7 linked regions of the Homo sapiens genome follow. The protein of the gene in region 1 interacts with the protein of each later gene in a biochemical or structural test. Each region holds a gene or a part of one and is shown on either strand. Other genes may lie near its edges. The genes, in order: MAP3K5, BIRC2, CDC25A, USP9X, LATS2, CDC25C and GEMIN5.

What was found.
Region 2: the proteins of MAP3K5 (region 1) and BIRC2 form a complex in vitro, tested with the Homo sapiens proteins (one study listed by BioGRID).
Region 3: the proteins of MAP3K5 (region 1) and CDC25A form a complex in vitro, tested with the Homo sapiens proteins (one study listed by BioGRID).
Region 4: of the proteins of MAP3K5 (region 1) and USP9X, one has a biochemical effect on the other in vitro, tested with the Homo sapiens proteins (one study listed by BioGRID).
Region 5: the proteins of MAP3K5 (region 1) and LATS2 form a complex in vitro, tested with the Homo sapiens proteins (one study listed by BioGRID).
Region 6: of the proteins of MAP3K5 (region 1) and CDC25C, one has a biochemical effect on the other in vitro, tested with the Homo sapiens proteins (one study listed by BioGRID).
Region 7: the proteins of MAP3K5 (region 1) and GEMIN5 form a complex in vitro, tested with the Homo sapiens proteins (one study listed by BioGRID).

What each region holds. Positions count from the first base shown.
Region 1 is NC_000006.12:136,558,478-136,561,977, reverse strand, and holds part of MAP3K5 (mitogen-activated protein kinase kinase kinase 5), read left to right. Parts: intron 1-332; coding exon 333-445; intron 446-3,101; coding exon 3,102-3,178; intron 3,179-3,500. UniProt on the Homo sapiens protein: Serine/threonine kinase which acts as an essential component of the MAP kinase signal transduction pathway. Plays an important role in the cascades of cellular responses evoked by changes in the environment.
Region 2 is NC_000011.10:102,374,714-102,378,213, forward strand, and holds part of BIRC2 (baculoviral IAP repeat-containing protein 2), read left to right. Parts: intron 1-2,782; coding exon 2,783-3,037; intron 3,038-3,143; coding exon 3,144-3,185; intron 3,186-3,276; coding exon 3,277-3,470; 3' UTR 3,471-3,500. UniProt on the Homo sapiens protein: Multi-functional protein which regulates not only caspases and apoptosis, but also modulates inflammatory signaling and immunity, mitogenic kinase signaling, and cell proliferation, as well as cell invasion and metastasis.
Region 3 is NC_000003.12:48,181,918-48,185,417, reverse strand, and holds part of CDC25A (M-phase inducer phosphatase 1), read left to right. Parts: intron 1-722; coding exon 723-765; intron 766-1,581; coding exon 1,582-1,618; intron 1,619-2,387; coding exon 2,388-2,489; intron 2,490-3,500. UniProt on the Homo sapiens protein: Tyrosine protein phosphatase which functions as a dosage-dependent inducer of mitotic progression. Directly dephosphorylates CDK1 and stimulates its kinase activity. Also dephosphorylates CDK2 in complex with cyclin-E, in vitro.
Region 4 is NC_000023.11:41,168,945-41,172,444, forward strand, and holds part of USP9X (ubiquitin carboxyl-terminal hydrolase 9X), read left to right. Parts: intron 1-1,050; coding exon 1,051-1,291; intron 1,292-1,525; coding exon 1,526-1,675; intron 1,676-2,893; coding exon 2,894-3,014; intron 3,015-3,500.
Region 5 is NC_000013.11:21,055,087-21,058,586, reverse strand, and holds part of LATS2 (serine/threonine-protein kinase LATS2), read left to right. Parts: intron 1-3,500. UniProt on the Homo sapiens protein: Negative regulator of YAP1 in the Hippo signaling pathway that plays a pivotal role in organ size control and tumor suppression by restricting proliferation and promoting apoptosis.
Region 6 is NC_000005.10:138,325,305-138,328,804, forward strand, and holds part of CDC25C (M-phase inducer phosphatase 3), read right to left. Parts: intron 3,226-3,500; coding exon 3,180-3,225; intron 751-3,179; coding exon 717-750; intron 601-716; coding exon 511-600; intron 1-510. UniProt on the Homo sapiens protein: Functions as a dosage-dependent inducer in mitotic control. Tyrosine protein phosphatase required for progression of the cell cycle. When phosphorylated, highly effective in activating G2 cells into prophase.
Region 7 is NC_000005.10:154,896,712-154,900,211, forward strand, and holds part of GEMIN5 (gem-associated protein 5), read right to left. Parts: intron 2,600-3,500; coding exon 2,480-2,599; intron 1,940-2,479; coding exon 1,729-1,939; intron 1-1,728. UniProt on the Homo sapiens protein: The SMN complex catalyzes the assembly of small nuclear ribonucleoproteins (snRNPs), the building blocks of the spliceosome, and thereby plays an important role in the splicing of cellular pre-mRNAs.

The sequences.
Region 1 (3,500 bases):
TCTCTGCTAATTGTATTCATCTTTATTGCATGAAAAACACAAAGTCTAATTTTGGTGCACAGAGTTTATTCTAAGAAACCATAAAATTGATATGAAAGTGTAACGTAGGAGTGTCATTTCATTATTGCTTTTGCTCCTTATTTACTAGTAAATTCACTTCTCTGAGTTTTATTCATATTATCATCTATACTGCCAATCTCAATTGTTTCTATGAACTGTTCTCTGATAGAGCAAAATCTTTTAAAGTATCAATAAATGTCTGTTGATTGTGAGGGTCTCAGATGACCTCTGTTAGGTGAAATTAAGAATATCTTCCCAAAATTCTGTTCTAGAAATTCCTGAATTGCCTGTATTTCATCTAAATTCTTCTGGCACAAATACTGAAGATTCTGAACTTACCGACTGGCTGAGAGTGAATGGAGCTGATGAAGACACTATAAGCCGGGTAAAGAAAACTGTCTGTGGGACAAGTATTCTTTCACTTCGTTTCATAATGTTGGGTGCCTGCTATGTGACAGGCACAGGGGATACACTGGTGAGCAAATCAGACCCAGCCCTGCCCTCCTGAGGCTTACAGACCAGGGTAGGCACGTGATAATCAGCTAACTCCACAGATACAAATGTGATTCTACACTGGTAAATTCTATGAAGAAAAAGGTATCAGGTGTTTATTAGATAGGGCGAGAGAGGTTGGGGAAGGTTGTTGGAGAAGGGAATGAAAGAGCTGAAGGCTAACAGAATGTGAGGGTATAAATAGGCCAATTGTATGTATGTTCAGGAGGGGTGTGGGAGGGAGACCAGGGAAGAACCTTGTGCAGTGGGGCTGCAGTGTGTACAATCCAACGAGGCAGGCAAAAGCTCTGTGGTCCTGAGCCCCTTAGGAATTTTATGTATTTGAAATGAAAACCAGAAAGAGTGGGAAAAAAATAAAGACAGGACTAAAAGAAAAAATTTCTTGTTTCTAATTCTTTGTATGTTAATTTTTATTTTATTTTATTTTATTTTATTTTATTTTATTTTATTTTATATTTTTTTGGAGACAAGGTCTCGCTCTGTTACCCTGGCTGGAGGGCAGTGATCATAGCTCCCTGCAGCCTTGACCTGCTGGGCTCAAGTGATCCTCCCACCTTAGCCTCCTGAATAGTTGGGACTACAGACATGAACCATCATACCCAGCTAATTAAAAAAAAAATTTAGAGATAGGGTCTCGCTATGTTGCCCAGGCTGGTCTTAAACTCCTGGCCCCAAGCGATTCTCTCACCTCAGCCTCTCAGAGTACTGGGGCTACAGGCATGAACCACCACGCCAGGCCTGTTTGTTAAATTTTTAATTCTTTTTCAACATTATTAGATTCCACTGGGCAGCAGCTATTTTATTGCTACTTAATAAAATCAATCTGGTCGACTTATTTCAGAAATATTTTCTATACAAACCATATTTTACCTGTAATAATCTAATTCCTCTCTGCTCTGTATAGACTTTTTTTGATTTTGTTTTTTGAGACACAATCTCACTCTGTCGCCCAGGCTGCAATGCTGTGGTGCGATCTCAGCTCACTGCAATCTTTGCCTGCCAGGCTCGAGAGATTCCCTGCCTCAGCCTCTCAAGTAGCTGGGATTACAGGCATATGCCACTAAGCCTGGCTAATTTTTGTACTTTTAGTAGAAACAGGGTTTCACCATATTGGCCAGGGTGGTCTCGAACCCTGGCCTCAAGTGATCTGCCCACCTCAGCCTCCCAAAGTGCTGAGATTACAAGTGTGAGCCACTGCGCCCAGCCCCTATAGACTTTTGTAATGAGCGTGAATAGCATTTGTTTATGTTCATTATATGAACACACAGGCATACATTAAAACATTGTAATATTTGATAGAAAGACCCTCTTAATACAATATTGTTTTGTTTTATATTTAAATTTTAAAAATAAATAAGAATAAAGATATCTCTTCTTTTGACTTGATAATTTATTAACTAAGTAGAATTTCGGGCCGCCTTAGAAATCTACATTTAACAAGTTACAGCTGAATAAATTTAAACAACTCCAGAATATACATTCCTCTAACTTAGGCTCAAATCCTAATTAAGGAATAGTAATTGATAATCTACTAAATAATCACCCTTTTTATTTGGTTTAAAAGTAAAAGCTTGAGGCCAGGTGCAGTGGCTCCTGCCTGTAATCCCAATACTTTGGGAAGCATAGGCAGATTGCTTGAGGCCACGTGTTGGAGATTAGGCTGGTCAATATAGTGAGACTGTCTCTATATATAAAAAAATAAATAAAATTTAAAAATATAAAGGTGCAGTTTAAATTAAGACTCTGCTTTTATGGTGAATTACAGTCAAGTGCCTTTGCTTAACCATGAAAAAATAAGTTCAGAAATTAAGCATAGGCAGTACCTTTCCAGGAACACTTTTTATCCACTTGAGGAAAAACAAAGCTATGTAGCATTGAACTTCTAAATACAAGATTTGCTTTTGAACAGCAGAGTGATTACAAGTGAGTCTCATCTGTTCATTAGAAGACCATTCAGAAGTTCTGTGTCACTTGTAATCTTTTTGCATTTGGAAGTTAATATGGATGCATTTCTTGTTTTTGTTTTTGTTTTTGTTTTTGTTTTTGTTTTTTTGAGACGGAGTCTCACTCTGTCGCCCAGGCTGGAGTGCAGTGGGTCAATCTCAGCTCACTGCAACCTCTGCCTCCCGGGTTCAAGCGATTCTCCTGCCTCAGCCTCCCAAGTAGCTGGGATTACAGGCATACGCCACCACGCCCAGCTAATTTTTTGTATTTTTAGTAGAGATGGGGTTTCACCACTTTGGCCAGGCTGGTCTCGAACTCCTGACCTCAGATGATCCGCCTGCCTCAGCCTCCTAAAGTGCTAGGGTTACAGGCGTGAGCCACTGCGCCCGGCCTGGATGCATTTCTTTGTATTTATTGAGTAACAGGGAGGCCTTTCCCCTAATAATCCTGGAAGATTGTGTTTTTAGTAGATTTCATTTTTAGATTCATTTTTAATTATAGTCAAGGTTTACATTATGAATAGAGTTTGTGCTTTATTAAAGTTATATAAAACATCTTTTGTGCATATTCTACTTTCTCTACAGTTTTTGGCTGAAGATTATACACTATTGGATGTTCTCTACTATGTTACACGTGATGACTTAAAATGCTTGAGACTAAGGTACCACTTTTCTTTCTGTTGTCACTATGGAAAGAGCACCAGGCAAATATCAAAAAGTCTGAGTATCTTCCCAGGCTGGGTCTCTAATTAGCTTTGTAGTTCTGGACAGAGCTCTCTAGCTCTTAGCTGCTCTGAGTAAACTGAGTTAGTTGGACAATGATATTTTTGAGGGCTCTAATAACCAATATTTCTATATTAGTAAGTGAAAATCAACTGGAAGAATTTTTTTGAATAAGATGCAGACTAAGTCCATGCAGATATTCTGAAGCTGCCTTAAACAAATGCTTTAATTGAGTTCATGATGGTGTTATACTCAATAAAT
Region 2 (3,500 bases), on another chromosome or scaffold:
TGCTTTGTTTACCTAATCAAGCCTGGGCAATGGCGGGCGCCCCTCCCCCAGCCTCGCTGCTGCCTTGCAGTTTGATCTCAGACTGCTGTGCTAGCAATCAGCGAGACTCCGTGGGCGTAGGACCCTCCGAGCCAGGTGTGGGATATAATCTCTTGGTTCGCCGTTTTTTAAGCCAGTCTGAAAAGCGCAATATTCGGGTGGGAGTGACCCGATTTTCCAGGTGCGTCCGTTACCCCTTTCTTTGACTCGGAAAGGGAACTCCTTGACCCCTTGGGCTTCCCAAGTGTGGCAATGCCTTGCCCTGCTTCGGTTTGCACACGGTGCGCGCACCCACTGGCCTGCGCCCACTGTCTGGCACTCCCTAGTGAGATGAACCCGGTACCTCAGATGGAAATGCAGAAATCACCCGTCTTGTGCGTCGCTCACGCTGGGAGCTGTACACCGGAGCTGTTCCTATTCGGCCATCTTGGCTCCTCCCCTCCTTCAATAAATATTTGTTGAGCATGAGCACCAGTGCCAAATACTGTGCCTAATCACAGTGGTTGCTGTCAAGGAGTATATACACTAGCTGGCGAGACTAGTGTGCAAAAGACAGGGTTAAAGGGCCAGCAGAGAGGCGAAGGTTGCATATGTATTGGAGTATTGCGTTGGAAGATGCTTTCTTTTTAAGCTTGTAAGTAAAGACAGGAATAACTTAAGAGTACCTTATTGCATGACCGTGTAGCAAAATATTTAAAGTCTGGACTTCTACATTGAAACAGATTTGTGTTTAAATTCTAGCTCCAGGCTGGGCGCGGTGGCTCATGCCTGTAATCCCAGCACTTTGGGAGGCCAAGACGGGCGGATCACAAGGTCAGGAAATTGAGACCATCCTGGCTAACACGATGAAACCCCGTCTTGACTAAAAATACAAAAAATTAGCCGGGCATGGTGGCGGATGCCTGTAGTCCCAGCTATTCGGGAGGCTGAGGCAGGAGAATGGCGTGAACCCGGGAGGCAGAGCTTGCAGTGAGCCGAGATCGTGCCCCTGCACTCCAGCCTGGGTGACAGAGCCAGACTCCATCTCAAAAAAAAAAAAAAAAAAATTCCAGTTCTATCAGTTACTAGCTTGGCTATTTATTCAACCAGACATCGGCTTTCTCATCTGTAAAATGGGGATAATAATAGTATGACTCCCATAGGGTTGCTGTAGGAATTAAATGAGATATTGCAAATAAAACACTTTAACACAGCTCCTAGCACGTCAATTTTTTTTTTTTTTTAAGCATTAGGTAGATTGACTTGGGAAGTGGGAGGGACTTGGTGAAAGAAAGGGCCTAAGAAAAGTCAATTTAAGGATTGTTAAGTAGTAATGAAATCCAGCTAAGGTTATATGAAATCACTGTCACCTTAGATTTATGACTTTCTCATACTTTGTATGGGTTGGAAAATAGTATTGAATTACAGATTTGGCAGTGTTAATAGGGGAAAGGGCAAGTAAGGAATACGGAAGATGAGTTAAGGGTGCTAATATAGAGAACTTCATTGAAATACCTGACTGCTACCTAGATTAGAATAGGAGGTTTGAAGCAAAGCCAGGAGATAGCTCTTGTGCAAGTAGAATTGGGAATGACATGGAGATCTTGAAAAGGTGAAGAACAAATTGGTTAGCAGTGAGAGGAATTATTTAGGTAGAAGAAAAAGTTGTCACAGAATGGAATTTTATAGTTTTGAGATTAATAGAGCAGTTCACTTCTAGAGAGATGTAAAAGGGGAAAGAAGATAGGCTTCTGTTTTTATAATTTATTTCTCATTAAACTGGTACTTTGTAGAGATGTACTTTTTAAATTTTTTTGAAAGTCTGAAAATAGACAAATTTTATAATGATTCAGATACCAAAAGAAGGAACTACCATATTCCATAAATATAAATTAACTGTGGAGTTTTATGTGATGCGATATTAAAGGAAAAACATTGGCTTTTTAAAAAAAGGTCAGGCTTGATTCTTAGGTAGTTTTTTTTAATTGCTATAAACATAGACATTTATAAAATAATAATGGTAGTTAACTATGTACCACATATTGTGCCAGATGCTTTACATGTATTATTCAATCCTTACAACTTTGAGGAAGGTACCGTTATGTATATTTTACAGATGAGGAAACTGAGGTGTATGGGGAAGGATGAGGACACATAGCTAGTGAGTGGGCCTAGCCAACACTGGAACCTAGGTCTGTTTTGACTTGGCAACTCAAACCCTACAATACTACAATACCACGTCTTAAGTATGGGGTGTTGAAAAGAACACTGGTCTAGGATGCCTGGTTCTGCAGCTTATTCTTTCTTGTGATCTTAGGCCACTCATTCTTTTCTGAGTCTTTTTTCTCCCTATGTAAAAATGAGAGGCAGTAATACTCGCCTTGTTTAATTGACAGGATCACTGTATCAAATGAGACAAATTACTATGAAAGTGCTTACAAAAGTAAAATGATATAATGGAAATACAAGAGTATTATTATATATGGTGGGGGGAAATTTTTACTGTCTTCTACAAATCTCTTGCAACAAAATAAAGTAAAAGCGGAGTTCTAGGACATGTAAATATATAGACTTAAAAATTAAACAGAGACTTCCTCTGGAAGTTTTCCAAACAACAAACTTACAAATGCAAACAAGTTACTTTGTTCTTTTTTGAACTTTATTTAGTGCCTAAATTGTTTGTAGGGTTGGTTATTAGTGACTATATGAGTATAGTTAAAGGAGTTTAAAATCTAATGGATTTCTTTTTCTTTTTTTAATGAAGATGATTTGTCATTAATTCGGAAGAACAGAATGGCTCTCTTTCAACAATTGACATGTGTGCTTCCTATCCTGGATAATCTTTTAAAGGCCAATGTAATTAATAAACAGGAACATGATATTATTAAACAAAAAACACAGATACCTTTACAAGCGAGAGAACTGATTGATACCATTTTGGTTAAAGGAAATGCTGCGGCCAACATCTTCAAAAACTGTCTAAAAGAAATTGACTCTACATTGTATAAGAACTTATTTGGTGAGTTTGTTGGGAAAATTATTTTAGAAATTCTTAGGACTGGCCAGATGCGGTGGCTCAGTTTTGTATTTAGTAGAGTAATGGTTTTTATGTTTTCTTTCCTCAGTGGATAAGAATATGAAGTATATTCCAACAGAAGATGTTTCAGGTAAAACAAAGATTTAAAACCAACATGAACTATTACCCTTTTTTTTTAATGAAGTGGAAACAATTTCACTAAAGTTATTTTTTGTTATTAGGTCTGTCACTGGAAGAACAATTGAGGAGGTTGCAAGAAGAACGAACTTGTAAAGTGTGTATGGACAAAGAAGTTTCTGTTGTATTTATTCCTTGTGGTCATCTGGTAGTATGCCAGGAATGTGCCCCTTCTCTAAGAAAATGCCCTATTTGCAGGGGTATAATCAAGGGTACTGTTCGTACATTTCTCTCTTAAAGAAAAATAGTCTATATTTTAACCTGCATA
Region 3 (3,500 bases), on another chromosome or scaffold:
AGGGTCTTGCTCTGTTTTCCAGGTCTCAGGCTGGTGTACAGTGGCACAATCAGGGTTCACTGTAGCTTCAACTTTCCGAGCTCAAGCGAACCTCCCACTCCAGCCTCCCCAAGTAGCTGGGACTACAGACACGTGCCACCACACCCAACTAATTTTTTTTTTAACTTTGGTAGAGTCAAGTCTCACTATGTTGCCCCAGGCTTGTTTTGAACTTGTGGCCTCAAGCCATCAGCCTGCCTCAGCCTCCCAAAGTATTGGAATCACAGGTGTGAGCCACTGTGCCTGGTCAGTAGTTGTATTTTTCAAGCCTCATATGATTTGACAAGGTAAAACGTTTAAAAACTATGCCAAGAAAATCTGGTACCTATTGTTTCTATGGTTGGAACTCACAGAAAGTTATCTGGGTCACCTCTATCTGAATAACCAAACAATCATGATATGAATCAGTTTTATTCACCCTCTTCTCAAATCCTATTTCCCTTGATGTTATTTGCAAATAGGAGAAAAAACAGTAAATACGCTATGAAAATATTAAGACTTGTACAAACATGACATTTTTGACAATCTAATAGACGTAACATCAATTCTGGCAAAAGTACAAGCCATGAATATTTGTTGCCTGACTTAAATAAAGACCCAGGTACTTTGTTTAGTGTTTTAATTTTAATGACAAAATGGTGTTTTTTGTATTATTTCTTGAGAGGTTTTTTTTTTCCCCATAGGTTTCTGTCTAGATTCTCCTGGGCCATTGGACAGTAAAGAAAAGTATGTATTCACTGCTTTCAAATGTTTATATGTAGAAAAAACGTGTCTAAACTTAAATACCTTATTTAAATGAAGTTCTTCATACACTGGACTGGAGCCCTGGATTTACCTGTGCCTAGAAACACTCTGGAATCTCAAGAATGAATAGTTTGTGTCAGCAATTTTCAGAACTTTTTCTCCTTTATTTTAGCTATAATTTTGGTGTTCTGTTTGGGTCTTACCCAAACCCTTACTCTGTGCTCTGACATCATAGCCTTACAAGAACATGTGGGGTTTTTTTGTTTGTTTGTTTGTTTGTTTCTGAGGCAGAGTCTCACTCTGCCGCCCAGGCTAGAGTGCAGTGGCTCACTGCAACCTCCACCTCCCAGGTTCAACTGATTCTCCTGCCTCAGCCTCCCGAGTAGCTGGGACTACAGGAGTGCACCACCACACCCGGTTAATTTTTGTATTTTTAGTAGACACGAGGTTTCATCGTGTTGGCCAGGCCAGGAGTTCGAGACTCCTGACCTCGTGATATACCCTCCTCGGCCTCCCATAGTGCCCATAGTGCTGGGATTACATGTGTGAGCCACCGCGCCCAGCCGAATGTGTGTATTTTAAGAAAAGACATGGGTTTGTTTTTTTTCACCTAGAAGTCTAGTGTTGGGGGTGCTCCTGAGAACAGGACAGCTTCAGAAATTTATTCTCCCATCTCTTGCCTAAAATGGGAGTCTGTGACTGTACCCCCAAGCTACAGGCTAAACACTATCTCTCTGCTAATATGAATACCTCTTTACTTGTTTTATTCTCATTATTTACCTTCTGATCTCATTACAGCCTTGAAAATCCTATGAGAAGAATACATTCCCTACCTGTAAGTTAGTTCCTTGTTTATTTTGAGCTAATACCTGTTATCTGTTCCTTAGCTACCAGCATGACCTTGATAGGAGACTTAATTTAGAGAGTAAAAACTGCTTTTCTTTAGTCTCTTTTGAGACAAGGTCTTGCTCTGTCACCCAGGCTGGAGTGCAGTGGCAAAATCTTGGCTCACTGCAACCTCTGCTTCCCTGGCTCAAGTGATCCTCCCACCTCAACTTCCAGAGGAGCTGGGACTATATATAGGTGCACACCATCACACCCGGCTGATTTTTGTATTTTTTGTAGACATGGGGGTCTCACTCTGTTGCCCAGGCTGGTTTCAAACTCCTGCCTCGGCCTCCCAAAGTGCTAGGATTATAGGCAAGAGCCACTATTCCCAGCCTTTCCTTAGTCTCATAAGTACTCAAGATGTTCGGTCTGGAGGAATTTGTCCTCCATCTCTAACAGAGCTTTATTAAACCAGGAAGGGTTCTTTTGATGCAAATGTTATTTGGGGATTGATTTGGCACTGTAATCCCTGTTGAGGGGGGCACTGTAGACCTTGTGAGGTTAGCTGTAAACCCATGGAATGGAAACTTCTATGCTGTGTCCTGGCTGTGTCCTGGCAAGGTGGATTCCTGGCCACATTTACTGGTTACCTACTGCAGTGTGTGAGGAGCTAGTCTACCCCCTATTCAACCCCCCTTTTTTTTCTTTTGAGAACTGAATTTTCCACTGAAATTTTATTTGTGTGCCTTAATTATTTTCCTTTTTTACTTTGATAGCAGAAGCTGTTGGGATGTAGTCCAGCTCTGAAGAGGAGCCATTCTGATTCTCTTGACCATGACATCTTTCAGCTCATCGACCCAGATGAGAACAAGGAAAATGTGAGTGTGACTTCAATGTACTAACCTGAGGCAGAGGTGAAACCCACAGGCTGTCAGTGGCTTAGAAGTGGCTGGGCTGCTTTCTGGGAGACTAAACTTGGCCATTATGTGCGGTCTTTGGAGTCAGAGAATTCTGGGTTTGGATCCTGCTTACTAGCTGTGTGATGTTGGCAAATTCTTCTCTTTTTAATCTTTGCTCTTTTGTAAAATAGGAGTAGTAATACCTTTTAGGGATGTTGTGGCAATAAGTAAGATTATGTATGAAGTATTGAAAATGGTGCCTGACAGGCGGGAGTTGCTCAGATTGTAGCTCACAGGAGTAATTACATGTACAAATAGTGTTTGTCTGGAAGGCTCTGCCCAGGCTGTCCTTGCCTCTTTGCTCTGACCCTGAAATGAATTGTAAGCTTAGGAAAAGGCTCTTTGGCAGTATTTGTAAGAACGGGGTCAACAAGTTCTAGGGAATCTCAGAGTAACTGAAATGGTGGCTTGGAAGGTGAATTTCTGGTTATCTACCCTGAATGAGCCTGGCTTTTTTGTTCTTTTAGACATTGCACAGAGTAGGCATCCAAAACAGTTGTAATTTTTTCAGCCTTCTCTCTACTGTATTTCTATATATTTACTTTCTCCCCTTTTCCATTCCTGCTGAAATGCCACAGTTCATAATCCTTGTCCTTACAATCTTCAGGTTTAGTGTGAAACCCACTGCCTCCATGAACTCTCCTGATGATTTCTTTATCAACCTGGGAAGTGTCATGAGAAAGAATATGGAAATGAGTTCCAGCCTTGAGTGCTTGGAACAGTGTATCAGCCTCTAGTGCTTTTTACCAGGGCAAAGCTGTACTGATGCCTGGTTTTCCCCCGAAATAGCTTCTCAGGGTTGCTTGCCTGGAGCTTTGTTTTAAAGGGAAAACAGCATAGATGGTGGTTAAAGAGCTCTCACTCTGGAGTTGTCCTGTTTTACTTCAATATTTTGGGCACATTCCTTAACCTGCAAGGTCTAGTTTTCTC
Region 4 (3,500 bases), on another chromosome or scaffold:
TTGAATATGATTTTTATTTTGTATTTTACTTTAAAAAAGGTACTATACCAATATAAATAGCATTTTGGAGTGAATTTTGATATGAAGGCTTTTTTCCAGAAAAAAAATAAAGTGCATTGTGGCATTTTTGTTGATGCTTTTAACAAAATGTAAAACGACCTTTTAAATGTAAAAGGTAAACTCTACCTTCTTTTTTTGAATTTTTTTTTTTATTAATACAAGGTCTACCTATGTTGTCGAGGCTGGTCTTGAACTCCTGGGCTCAAGGGATCTTCTTTGCTTGGCCTCCCAAAGTGGTAGGATTACAGGCATGAGCCACTGCGTCCAGCCAACCTTTTACATTTAAAAATAGTCTTAGTGAGTTGGGCTTTTACAGCATAAAAATAAGCGTTATATCTTGGATTTAATTTCATTTTAGTAGACACCTCATTTTCTGCAACCATAGATACAAGACTAACAACAATAGAATATGATTATGTTTTTAAATATTATTTATATTTTTAGTTAAAAGGAGCAATATTTTTTTTTCTTTTGCATTTCACTCTTGTTGCCCAGGCTGGAGTGCAGTGGTGCAGTCTCGGATCACTGCAACCTTTGCCTCCCAGGTTCAAGCGATTCTCCAGCCTCAGCCTCCCAAGTAGCTGGGATTACAGGCGCCCACCACCAAGCCTGGCTTATTTTCTGTATTTTTAGTAGAGATGGAGTTTTACCATGTTGGCCAGGCTGATCTCGAACTACTGACCTCAAGTGATCCACCCGCCTCGGCCTCCCAAAGTGCTGGGATTATAGGCATGAGGCACCATGCCTGGCCTTATTTTCAAGATACTGAAAGTAATACAGGTTGAGTATCCCTAATCCAAGAAATCCAAAATTTGTCTGGTCCCAGACATTTCATATAAGGGATTCTCAAGCTGTATTAAGTATCTTTAATTCACATCCTCTTGTTTAATAAGAAAATACTTAGTGTTAAATCCCCAGCATTATTTTCTTGGCAACAAAATTTCAGAGTCTGCTGAATATGATGATGTCTGTCTTTCTTTTTCCCCCCAGAGCATTCCGCGGTAAACACCTCTCTTTTGTAGTTCGATTTCCAAACCAGGGCAGACAGGTTGATGACTTGGAGGTATGGTCTCATACAAATGATACAATTGGTTCAGTACGACGATGTATTCTCAATCGTATTAAAGCCAACGTAGCCCATACAAAAATTGAGCTCTTTGTGGGCGGTGAGCTGATAGATCCTGCAGATGATAGAAAGTTGATTGGACAATTAAACTTAAAAGATAAATCGGTATGTATGTATAGTTAACAGATTTTTCAATAAAATCAAACCAGAGACTATCGTTTAATCAGTAAATACTAATTGAGCATTTGTTATGTTTGGGACTGTGTTAGGTGTTAGAGTTATAGCATTAAAGTATAGCATGTAGTCTTTCGGATTTTTTGGTTGGTATATCACTAAGTTTTGTGTTTTGTGTAAGTATTTTTCCTTGTTTTTGATATTAACATAGTATATAATTTTCAGCTTATTACAGCCAAACTTACACAGATAAGTTCCAATATGCCTTCAAGCCCTGATAGCTCTTCTGATTCCTCCACTGGATCTCCTGGAAACCATGGTAATCATTACAGTGATGGTCCCAATCCAGAAGTGGAAAGCTGTTTGCCTGGAGTGGTGAGTAGATACAGTTTTGAACTACTGTATGTAAGGCATCATGCTAGGGTTTTTGAGAATAAAGTATATAGAGTGGTTCTTTCTTTTCTTGAGGAGCTTACAGTTTAATGAGACAAAAAAATACAGTTAACCACCAACTTCAGAATGGATCCCTCTAAAAGGTAATTGTAACACAGTTGGAATTTAAAACATAATTTCCCCATAGGTATAGTATTGTTACTTTTACATAAAATTAACCAATTAGAGCTTAATTATAACACTATTGGATGTATAAATTTAGAGGAAAACAGTCATCCCTCGTATACGTGGAGAATTGGTTCCAGGACCTCTGCATATACCCAAAATGCTGCAGATGACCCTGTGCAACCAGATATACAAAAAGTTAGCCTTCCATATACTTGGGTTTTGCTTGCTGGAAATACTGAATTTTCTGTCCACATTTGATTGGGAAAAAAGTCTGCATGTAAATGGACCTGTGCAGTTCAAACTTGTGTTGTTCAAGAGTCAGCTGTATCACTTTCTAAAATTTATACCACAAAACGGATAGTTCTTTTAGAACTATATATGAGCTGGGCATGGTGGCTCACACCTGTAATTCCAGCTACTGGGGAGGCTGTGAGGCAGGAGGATTGCTTGAGCCCAGGAGTTCTAGGCTGCAGTGAGCTGCGATTGTGCCATTATGCTCTAGCCTGGTCAACAGAGTGAGACCCCATCTCTAAAAATATAAATAAATGAAAACAAGAACTATGTAGGAAAATACCTGTAATCTTTATCAGATTGTCAGTAACATATAGCCAAAGAAATATTTTTAAGCTCTCCTTTCGCCCCTCCCGACAGAAATTTTAATGGTTACAATAGTAGCAGCCACTCCAGTGTCAGGAGGATTTGGCTCTCTATAACAACTGGATTAAGAATTTGGTAGTGGGCATGGCAGCCTTTTGTTATGTCCAGAGTCTAAATTGTATATATGAGAGAAATGGTTTAATAGAACAGGAGAGGAGCTATCACAAAAAAATGACTGGAAGTGACTTGATGATGTATTTGATCTGCACTATTAAGGATTTGTAGGGATTAAAAGATGGGAAAGTCAGACTATTTCAAAGAGTAGAAATTTCATAAGTAAAAGTATAGGGATTAACACAGAGAAACTTACTTGGGCTTTTATAAAACGGGAGTAAATAATTTAGAGGTAATTATTTTGTGTATTTTATATTCTAGATAATGTCACTGCATCCCAGATACATCTCTTTTCTTTGGCAAGTTGCAGACTTAGGTAGCAGCCTAAATATGCCACCCCTTAGAGATGGAGCAAGAGTACTTATGAAACTTATGCCGCCAGGTAAGAATTTTTAAATGATGATCAAGTACTTGCTGGACAATAAAGGAGTATATTAGCAAATTCTGTTTCTAAATGGACCGTGCTTTTTGGTATAGACTATAACAAGAGTTGACAGATGACAGCCCACAAGCCACATCAAGCCCCCTGCTTGTTTTTGTGCATCCCAAGAGCTATATTTTTAAGTGGCTACAAAAAAAAAATCTAGAAGAATAATATTTTGTGATACATGAAAATTATATGAAGTTTAAATTTTAGTGTCCATGATCAAAACCAGGCTCATTTGTTTACATTCAGTCTACATGACTGCTTTTGTCTTAAAATAGCACCGCCCAGGAGTTGTGGCAGAGGCCATATGGTTCACAAGCCTAAACTGCTTAACTTTCCTGGCCCTTTACAGAAAATGTTTGCCTATACCTGGACTATAATATGGGTCATGTGTCATCTGCGGTATTGTTCCTTTTTTATCCTTAGAAACAACCACTTCCA
Region 5 (3,500 bases), on another chromosome or scaffold:
TAAATTGGAGCTGTACATGTTCCTTAGCAAATCACAGGGTTGGTGGGAGGGGCTTTCTTTTGGTGGGAGGGGAATGATTTTACAATAAGATTCCTTGTTATTTTAAATGCTATGTTGTAAATAGCCAGCCTTGGGCTCCTAAACTCCACCAAGGGGTGGGGTAGGGTGGGGATTGAAGCTGATAAATTGACCATAAACAGAGGAAGGATTTCGGGAAGCTGGGGTTAGGGGAGAGGTGTTCTTTTTTGTATTGGAAAAACCATACCAACACCATTTTCGAAAAGCTGCTTTTGTATTTTATTTTGTAGTTAAAATCTTGTGAAACTTCTGAACAGTATTTCTTACTGACTTTTTAAAAACAGTTGGTGTGAAGAAATACAGAAGGTAAATTCAAATGCATTGACTCTGTCTTGACTAAATCTGTTCTAAAAAGTACCGAAATATTCTGATGATCAGAAAGAAGGGTAAGGCTTGATTGAAGTGACTGACTTCTAGCTCTAAACATTCTCTGAATCTTCTTCCTTTTAAAAAGTCTATTGCTTAGTAATTCCTCTAGAAGGAATCGGCCTTCAAATTACACAAGTCCAGGGGCATCGTTCCCATTGTATGCTAGGTCACTGCTGCTCTCTGTAATGGGCTTTATTACATAGAGTGCCCTGTGATGGCCCCAGTGTGAGGGCAGCCCTGCTTGGGATGTTCATTTCACTGTTAGCTGTTCTCTCAGTATTTTAAGGCTAATGTTACATAATGTTACGTGATTTTTATTTTTCATTTTTTTTTTATTTTTGAGATGGAGTCTCGCTCTGTCACCCAGGCTGGAGTGCAGTGGCACAATCTTGGCTCACTGCAAGCTCCTCCTCCTGGGTTCACACCATTCTCCTGCCTCAGCCTCCTGAGTAGCTGGGACTACAGGCGCCCGCCACCATGCCCAGCTAATTTTTTTTTTTTTTTACTTTTAGTAGAGACGGGGTTTCACCGTAGTAGCCAGGATGGTCTCGATCTCCTGACCTCGTGATCCACCCGCCTACAGGCATGAGCCACCGCGCCCGGCCTGTTACGTGATTATTAGTTTTATTTTGAAAGTATGAAAACAGCAAGGTAATATTGGAAATAAAGACATTGGTTATGATGTTAAAATTAGAATGGAAATTTGGCATTGTTTAATGTTTGCCGTTCACCCTGGGAAGACTTTGTTGGTTATCATCTAGATCATGTCAAGTTAATTGTGACAAGTGTTTTAAGTTAATTCACAAATACTTTTTGTTTGTGTGACAATATTTGACATACATGGGAATTTTTCTGGGAGAAAAATGAAAAAATCCCATATTTTGTAGCCATGGTTTGTATTTCTTGTTAACACTGATTGTTAGAATCTTGTAGTGTAGTTTAGATCCTATAGACCCTTGATCAGTTAGGATGGTAAGGATCTTAAGAATGTAAGCTGGATTTTGAAAGGAGTGGGCCTCTGTTTGGAATAGTGAGCCTCCCTGCCTCTAGGCAGTTATCTTGAGCAGGAATGCTAAGGGCCAACATGGTTCATTACTAGTTAACTCCATTCTTACTCGGGAGTCTCACTCATTTTTCTCATTAAATGTACCCGGACGACACCTGCACCCTCCCCAACATTTTTTGGCTGTTTTGTTCATCTTTCTCTCCCACGTTTGAGCCTTTTCATTGGAAGTTCCAGGCTCCAAGAATAGCTTCACACTTCCTCCATCAAATCATAGCCCTTCCAGTCTTTCTAATTTTGGTGAAACATCCCTTTCTCTAAGATACCTTCTCCAAATAATCTCAACACCTTCCTGAAGAATTGTGCTCCTCCATGGAAGTAGGCAGGGATTCTTTGGACAGTCACAGTATTTATTACTTCAGTCCATAGCAGTGATTCTCAAATGGGAGGGGTGTTCTAACTCCCTAGCTGGAGCGTATCCAAAACTTGGAGGGGTGCAGAGGAGGCAAGGCTTTCTTAACGATTGAGAACCCCTGCTGGGCTATGAAATTGAATATAAGATGGCCCATCCTGTTGGGTCGCTTGCTATTAGGAAAGCTGCAAAGAACTAATAATGTATCTGCAACTTGGTCACTCTGTTGTGATATCTTGAGTACAGACTTCTGTAGCTCAATTTTTTTATGCCATTTATATTTGCATAATGTATATCATAAAAATATAATGTACAAAGCTGTCTAATAGAGAATGTGATGGTGTCTTTTTCCCCGAGACTGTAAGCTTATGTAGAAGTGATACTCTGGCTGGGCATGGTGGCTCATGCCCGTAATTCCAGCACTTTGGGAGGCCGAGGCGGGGGGATCACTTGAGTCCAGGAATTCGAGACGAGCTTGGGTGACATGGCGAAACCCCATCTCATGGCGAAACTCCCCCTCAGATCTTGCCACTGCACTCCAGCCTGGGCAACCAGAGTGAGACCCTGCCCCCCCCACCAAAAAAAAAGACCCAATTCTACCTAGGTGAGACCTTATAGTGTCCAGCACAATGCTCAGTACACATATGGCAATGCCAAATTCTCTGAGGCCTTGTGATGATGCTGCTATTGGAGAGTGGGAATTCTTCTAAAGTGTGTTTTCCTGGATCCCCAGAGGAATGCAATCACTGCCTTCCTCAAAGACCCTCATTATGAGAGGTAGCCCTTGGCCTGTGGCTTCCTGGCTTGACAGTGCTGGTGTGGTACATCCACATAGTGGTTTATGATTCTGACATTTAGCATCTGGCTGGAGGCCTGGCCCGTCTGCCTGATTTAGTTTCAGCTTTGCTAGTTAATTATAGTAGGGATATGATTTAAATAATAGCTGGAATTTTAGGTTCAAGAAATCCTGCTTCAGAAAATGCCAACATGTGTCATTAGCGCAGGTCCCATGAGACATTGGTTTGGTTGGTTCCTTGGTTGGTGCTTGATGTGTGTTTGGCAGCCAGTGTGGGTTTGTGAAGCACTAGGATAAATTAGAATAAAAATTCTTGAACATCTGATAGCATTTTCCAGGATTGGATTGAGGGTTGGAATTGGGTTTGGTAGGACCAAATTAAAGGCATGCTTAAAATTTTGCTCTCACATTGTTTACACAGGCCACCTATATTAAGCATGGGATTTAGTAGTTGTCTCAGCTCTGGATTTAGAGAATGAGGTGTTTTTGTTTTGTGAGTTGTTATGGTTTTAAAATTCCAGTGTTTGTAGTTTGTTACTTAAAATGTGTGTGAATCAATTGGTGATGCCAAAGAAATTTCCAAAGTTAGATTTACTTTGCTTGATATCCCCATTTTTTTTAAAGTCCACATCCATGAGGGTCATATTTATAAAACTCTTGATGAAAGAAAAATTTCCCGTATGTGAAGTCTCATTAAAATGGTATAGTAATATGTCAGAGTTGTTCATTTCCAGCTGCAGTCTTGACTGATGAGTATTCTCATGAAAATTCTTTCAAAAGTTCATAATTTGGCCATGAAATCAACTGTCTTCAAACTAAAGCTTAAAATACACTGTCTGAAG
Region 6 (3,500 bases), on another chromosome or scaffold:
TGAGGTGGCTCCGGAGAGGCTAGATTTAACTTGGAACGACGGATGGCCTAAGGTTTAGATAAAAAGTACCATGGCCTCCTCGGAATAAGGGCTTAAAAGCTAGACTAAGGGGGAAATAAGAAATTAATCTACACTTGCATGTAAAGTGGTAAAAAAAAATCCATGAACAAGTTATGCAAGTTATCCCTACCTGTTAAAACAAACAAACAAACAAACAAAAAACTCCTAAATCCCTTACACTACAGTAAGGGTAATTTTTGTCCTCAAAATGATCAACTGAACATGAGAAATAATGATGACCTACTGTGGAAGATTTGGAGCTGGGTGTCTGTCCTAGGGCCAAACTTTAATAAGAAAAAACAAAAACAAAGAAATTTTCTCCCCTATAGTAATACAGTTTCCTTGTCTAGCATACGAGGTATAAACAGTTCTATGTCTCATTATGATACCAAGTTTCTTCACTCAAAAAATAAAACTGCCAATATATCTAGGTTTCCATTAAACACTCACATTTTCTTTATTTGCAGATGAACTACACATTGCATCTCTCTTTCTATGGCCACGGTCCAAACCATTCGGAGTGCTACAAAGAAGCTGTGCCTAAAAAAGAGAGTTTGCTGAGAACGTCCAGCATCCTCAAGCCACAGGTGCAATGGAAACCCTCTGCCTCCCACCTGAAAAGCAAAACAAAACCCAAAAAAAGAGAGGCTACTCACTGGGCTACATTTCATTAGGTGCTGGTCATGATTCCTGCAGATTAAAACAAACTGCCTGTCAGGTTAGTCCCAAATACTGTTTGATTATTCTTCAGTGGATTGGTGCATCCCAACATTTTTCTATTTCATTCTAGGAGCCCTATTCCTAGTTGATATGTCTCTTCCAACAACAATACATAGGGTATTCTCTGTGGTAAATATCAAGACTCAAGTGACATCCTGGGGATAAGACCCTCATTTTGCCTGCATAACCATATAACATGTTCCAAAGATGAACGAGTTTTATACAATTTACAATTTACTAATTTTCCAGCACAGTGTATTGGGGCTAATTTTTTTTTTTTGAGACGGAATCTGGCTCTGTCACTCAGGCTGGAGTGGCACGACCTCGGCTCACAGCAAGCTCTGCCTCCCGGTTTCACGCCATTCTCCTGCCTCAGCCTCCTGAGTAGCTGGGACTACAGGCGCCTGCAACCACATTCAGCTAATTTTTTGTATTTTTAGTAGAGATGGGGTTTCACCGTGTTAGCCAGGACGGTCTTGATCTCCTGACCTCGTGATCCGCCCGCCTCAGCCTCCCAAACTTCTGGGATTACAGATGTGAGCCACCGCACCCGGCCGGGGCTAACTTTTTAAAAAAATTTAATTTCTGGCGGGGCGCTGTGGCCCACGCCTGTAATCCCAGCACTTTGGGAGTTCGAGGCAGGCGGATCACCTGAGGTTGGGAGTTCGCAACCAGCCTGACCAACACAGAGAAACCCGTCTCTACTAAAAATACAAAATTAGCCAGGCATGGTGGCGCATGCCTGTAATCCCAGCTACTTGGGAGCCTGAGGCAGGAGAATCGCTTGAACCCGGGAGGGAGAGGTTGTGGTGAGCCGAGATCGCGCCATTGCACTTAAGCCTAGGCAACAAGAGCAAAACTCCGTCTCAAAAAAAAAAAAAAAAAAAAAAGGCTGGGCGCGGGGGCTCACGCTTGTAATTCCAGCACTTTGGGAGGCCAAGGCGGGCGGATCACGAGGTCAAGAGATAGAGACCGTCCTGGCCAACATGGTGAAACCCTGTCTCTACTAAAAATACAAAAATTAGCTGGGCGTCGTGGCATGTGCCTGTAGTCCCAGCCTCTCAGGAGTCCGAGGCAGGAGAATCACTTGAACCCGGGAGGCGGAGGTTGTAGTGAGCCAAAATCGCACCACTGCACTCCATCCTGGCAACAGAGCGAGACTCCATCTCAAAAAAAAAAAAAAATTAATTTCTATCCTCCCTCCATGGATTTCATTATCTATCTGGGTTAGAGCATTTAAAGCAATTCAAGCTGGGCCCAGTGACTCACATCTGTAATCCCAGGACTTTGGGAGGCCAAGGGGTGGGTGGGGGTGGGGCGCTGATCACTTGAGGTCAGGAGTTCAAGACCAGCCTGGCCAACATGGTGAAGCCTCCATTTTTGTATTACTAAAATACAAAAATTAGCCGGGCGTGGTGGTGGACGCCTGTAATCCCAGCTACTCGGGAGGCTGAGGCAGGAGAATCGCTTGAACCCAGGGAGGCAGAGGTTGCAGTAAGTCAAGATGGCACCACTGCACTCCATCCTTGGCAACAGAGCCAGACTCCATCTCAAAAATAAAAATAAATACATAAGTAAAATGCTTGGTATGTGCTAGATACACAGTTTATTTACTCCTTACAATAGCTACTTTATGAGAAATGCTATTATTGTCTCCACGTTACAAATAAAAAAAATTAAGGTCCAATGAAGTTAAAAAAAACTTGTCAGAGTCACAACTGGTGAATGAAGTAGTAAGCCAGGAATCCACACACTGATTCCAGAGCTTATACTCTGTACTTTCTTTTTTTTTTTTTTTCTGAGACGGAGTCTCGCTCTGTCGCCCAGGCTGGAGGGCAGTGGCGCAGTCTTGGCTCACTGCAACCTCCGCCTCCTGGGCTCAAGTAATTCTCCTACCTCAACCTCCGAAGTAGCTGCGATTACAGGCATGTGCCACCACATCCAGCTAATTTTTGTATTTTTAGTAGAGACGGGGTTTCACCATGTTGGGCAGGCTGGTCTTGAACTGCTGACCTCAACTGATCCGCCTGCCTTGGCCTCCCAAAGTGCTGGGATTACAGATGTAAGCCACCGTGTCCGGCCACTCTGTACTTTCAATTACTAAGATACAGCACCTTTCACATACAAATAAAAGCCTATACATAAGTGTAGTATACCATTTTCCTTCATTTCCTTATAGATACTTCTGATTATGATGGTTAAAATGAATAGCCTTCATTTTCACAACACTATTTAGATGTGGAAAACTTAGAAACTGTTCAAGGTAAGGAACTAGGCCTCAAAGCCCACTTATACCCAGTATGAAAGGTTTTGTACTCTGCAGAGTCTGCACAGGATAAAATCTCTATGACCAGTGCTAAAAGGCTTTTGTGTGGGGTTCATTTAACAACAGAACTTACATCCCAGCTAAATGCACTTCCTGAAGTCCTGAAGAATCCAGGTGACCTGCAATCAAATATAAAGAATCAGTAAAAGGAGTTATTCTTGTCCATGCATCCTGTTTTTCCTTCAGATTTTCTTCATTACCAGTAAGCCGTATTAATTTCAAGGACTGAGCTTTTGAATACAAAGCCTCTCGATTGGTACCCATTTCATGGTACAAGGTACAATTTCACAGAAACGTAAGAATTTATATGTGTCACTAAAAGAAATCAAGTGTTGGGAAACACTACACTATGCTACCTATGGAGTTTTTTTTTTTCTTATGGGTAGAAAAGAAA
Region 7 (3,500 bases), on another chromosome or scaffold:
ACTTTGGACTCAGGAATAAAAGCATAATGGGCCAAAGGTGCTGGAATAGACAAGCTTTGCAGATCCAAGAGCTGGGACAGGCATTAGGAGCCATGTCCAAATAGGTTTAATAGAGGAAGCTGGCTGGGAGAGAAGAAAACAGAAGCACAGAGAAGGCCTAGAAAATCTACTTTCACTAGATTTTTAGTTGCCATGAGATTCCTTGTGTACTCCTATAACAATATCTTCTCAGTTAAGCTTGCAAGAGTCTCTGTTGCACAAAACCAAAATAGCCCTTATCAGAATATTTAGCATATGCTTATTAGGTTTTTTTGCTTTGTTAAGGATGCTGTTTAAGAGAAAAATAAAATGCTAAACAGTCATTCTGGAAACTTTTTTTGATGGTGGATAAATTAAAATCTTTCTAGACTTGGTCATTTTATAAATAATGCCCAGTGGCATTATCTTTTAGGGTGTCCTATTTTCACCTCCATTTTTATTCTGCTGTTCCTAGAAAGCTACCTCCCCATGTACCACGTTCCTTGGGCTCTAAATATTCAGCTAAAAACCATCTGTAGGCCCTGTACTCTGTTAGAGAATGAAGAACTTAAAAAACCTCTTGTTAGTATCTCACAAAGTTATCTAAAGTGAATCAAATGTTTACATGTTTCAGAAACTAGGTAAGTGTGCCAATGCTTTAATCTGTTTTGATGTGTCAAAAAGGCAGTGGTATGTTACTGATTTTTAATCAGATGGGAACAAAAAAATTTAAGAAATAAAGAGATTTCCATTTTCCCACACTTTTCTCTTTTTTTTCTGAAGAGTCTCACTCTGTCACGTAGGCTGCAGTGCAGTGACACAATCTTGGTTCATTGCAACCTCTGCCTCCTGGGTTCAAGCAATTCTCCTGCCTTAGCCTCTCAAGTAGCCAAATTACAGATGTGTGCCACCATGCCTGGCTAATTTTTTTATTTTTAGTAGAGACAAGATTTCGCCATGTTGGCCAGGCTGGTCTTGAACTCCTAATCTCAAGCGATCTGCTGCATCTGGCCCAGTTTTTTTTCCATAGCTTACAGTTAAGAGGGGCATTTACAGGTAGAGTTCCATGATTTCTGTTAGAGGCCAACCATTCTCTCTTCAAGGAAGACAGTGCTGATAACATCAATGAAGAAACCCTAGACTGCCAACCCAAGGCCTGGGCTGACTAAGGTGTTTTTTTTTGTGTTTTTTTTTTTTTTTTTGAGACAGAGTCCCACTATGTTGCCCAGGCTGGATCTTGGCTCGCTGCAACCTCCGCCTTCCGGGTTCAAGTGATTCTCCTGCCTCAGCCTCCCAAGTAAGCTAGGATTACAGAAGCGTGCCACCACGCTCGGCTAATTTTTGTATTTTTAGTTGAAACGGGGTTTCACCATGTTGTCCAGGCTTGTCTCAAACTCCTGACCTCAAGTGATCTGCCTGCCTCGGCCTCCCAAAGTGCTGGGATTACAGGCATGAGCCACTGTGCCCGGCTCACAGGTGTTTTGTACAAACAGATAAGCAATGGGAATTACTGTGAATGACCATATTATCTCTTACTCTGAATACGGCAACTAACAAGTCATAGTACTTCAGTGGGATAGCATGGCCAGGGCTTGCTGGGCCTGCCAAATTGGCACAGCTTGTGCAACTGGGTTATTAACTTGGATTTGACTAGAAAAGGATTTGGGACACTTCCCTCTTGTATACTAGGAGATGAAATAACAGACTGACCTGTAGACTTTCATGCAGCTGCAGGGCTTCCTGGGCTCCCACCCAGTTGTTGGCCAGAAGCAGCTCTTGGGCACATCTGAGAGCCAGGGAAGCAGACAACTCATCCTCTCCTACGATGGCAGCCAACTCTGCAGCCGTTCTAAGTGATGCCGCATCCCCCTTTTTGGCCAAAACTTTGGCTGCATCATAAGCACAAGTGGCCCCTAAATAGCTATAATATGAATAAAAATGTGAAGAAAATGTCACAAACAGATTTTTATTCCCATTCCTAGAGGATGGAATCATTTCTTTCTATCTACTTTGCTGCATGTGCCTTCCTGTGGTCCCAGGTATGTCACTGCCCCGGTTGTTCCTGTGAAGGCTGAGGCCAACACAACTCAGCAGAGTGTATGAGAAACAATATCATATAGGTTAAGGACATAAGGAAAATGAGAGGGAATGACTCCTCTGTTGGGTTCAATCCAGCATGGGTTGAGGTTCCTTTATTTGATGTTATAAGAGACCATTAGAAAAATGCATAATTTCTTAATCTGCTGCTGAGGTTTTTCTTGAATAGTTATAGTGATTTATATAAATAAATCAGGAAGTAGTTCCTGATGAGTCTTATGAAACTAAGTTGAATATACATATCTTTTAAATAATTCCTTGCTGCTTTACCTCCACCTCTAAACTTATTACTTGTATTCTTGTCCTCCCCTTCCTGGCAGAAGCTCTCCTATGTTGGAAGCATCCCTCCACTCCTCAGGCTTACCATTTGGCAGCTACAGCATAGTGGCCATCTCTTTCTAGGACGGTTCCCCAGCTGAGGTACAAGTCCTTCAGGACTGGGTCCTCCGGGCGCAGCCGGGCCTTGGCAATCGCAATAGCTTCCCTAAAGGCAAGAACAGACCCTTTAGCCAATCTGAAAAGGCTCCTCTGTGTATGGTCCTAGGAGGGGCTGTAAGACAGGACAAACTGTCCCTTTTGTGTTGTCTTATTGTTCCAACTTCCTTTAAAAACTGCACTTGCATTATATAGACAAATTAGAAACATATGCTGCATTCGTTTCTTCACTTAGATCAGCAGTTCTTAAATTGTGGTCTGTGGATTCCTAGGGGGTCCTCAAGAACCTTTCAGAGGGTTCATGAGGTTAAAACTATTTTCGTAACAATGCTAAGAGTCAGTTATGTGCTTTTTTATTAAAAAAAAAAAAATGTGTTGACATTTGCACTGATTGTGCCAAAGCAGTGATTGGGAAACCTGGCATCTAAGAAGGAAGGCGGTGGCTCTTACAGTGGAAAAAAAGGAAGAATGCCCTTAATGAAGCAGTAAAAATTACAAATTTTACTAAATCCGTCAAGTCCAAAACACTTTAATATTCTGTGTGACAAATGGGAAGAACATTTTGTGTTCTCTGCTGCATTCCAAAGTAGAATGGTTGTCTCTAGGTAACACCTGTATGAACAAATTACAAGCTAAACTGGCTGCTTTTTCATAGAACCTTCTTTCTTCTAAAAAAAAAAAAAATGACTAACATAAATAACAGTTATTCAGTGTTGGGTATTTGGCAGATGTTTTTCTCAAAAATGAACAAAGTAGGCCTATCACTTCATTAAAAACAACCAACAGTATTTGTTACTAATGATAAAATGCGAGTTTTCTAGCAAAAATTAGAATTTTAGAAAACTTGTACCTACCACTTGTGTGCCTGAGTTTCCCATAAGTTAGAATTTTCTGATGAGACTGATGGTGATAGTAAGGAATGTGGTATTTTTGGGTATTTTATAATAAGA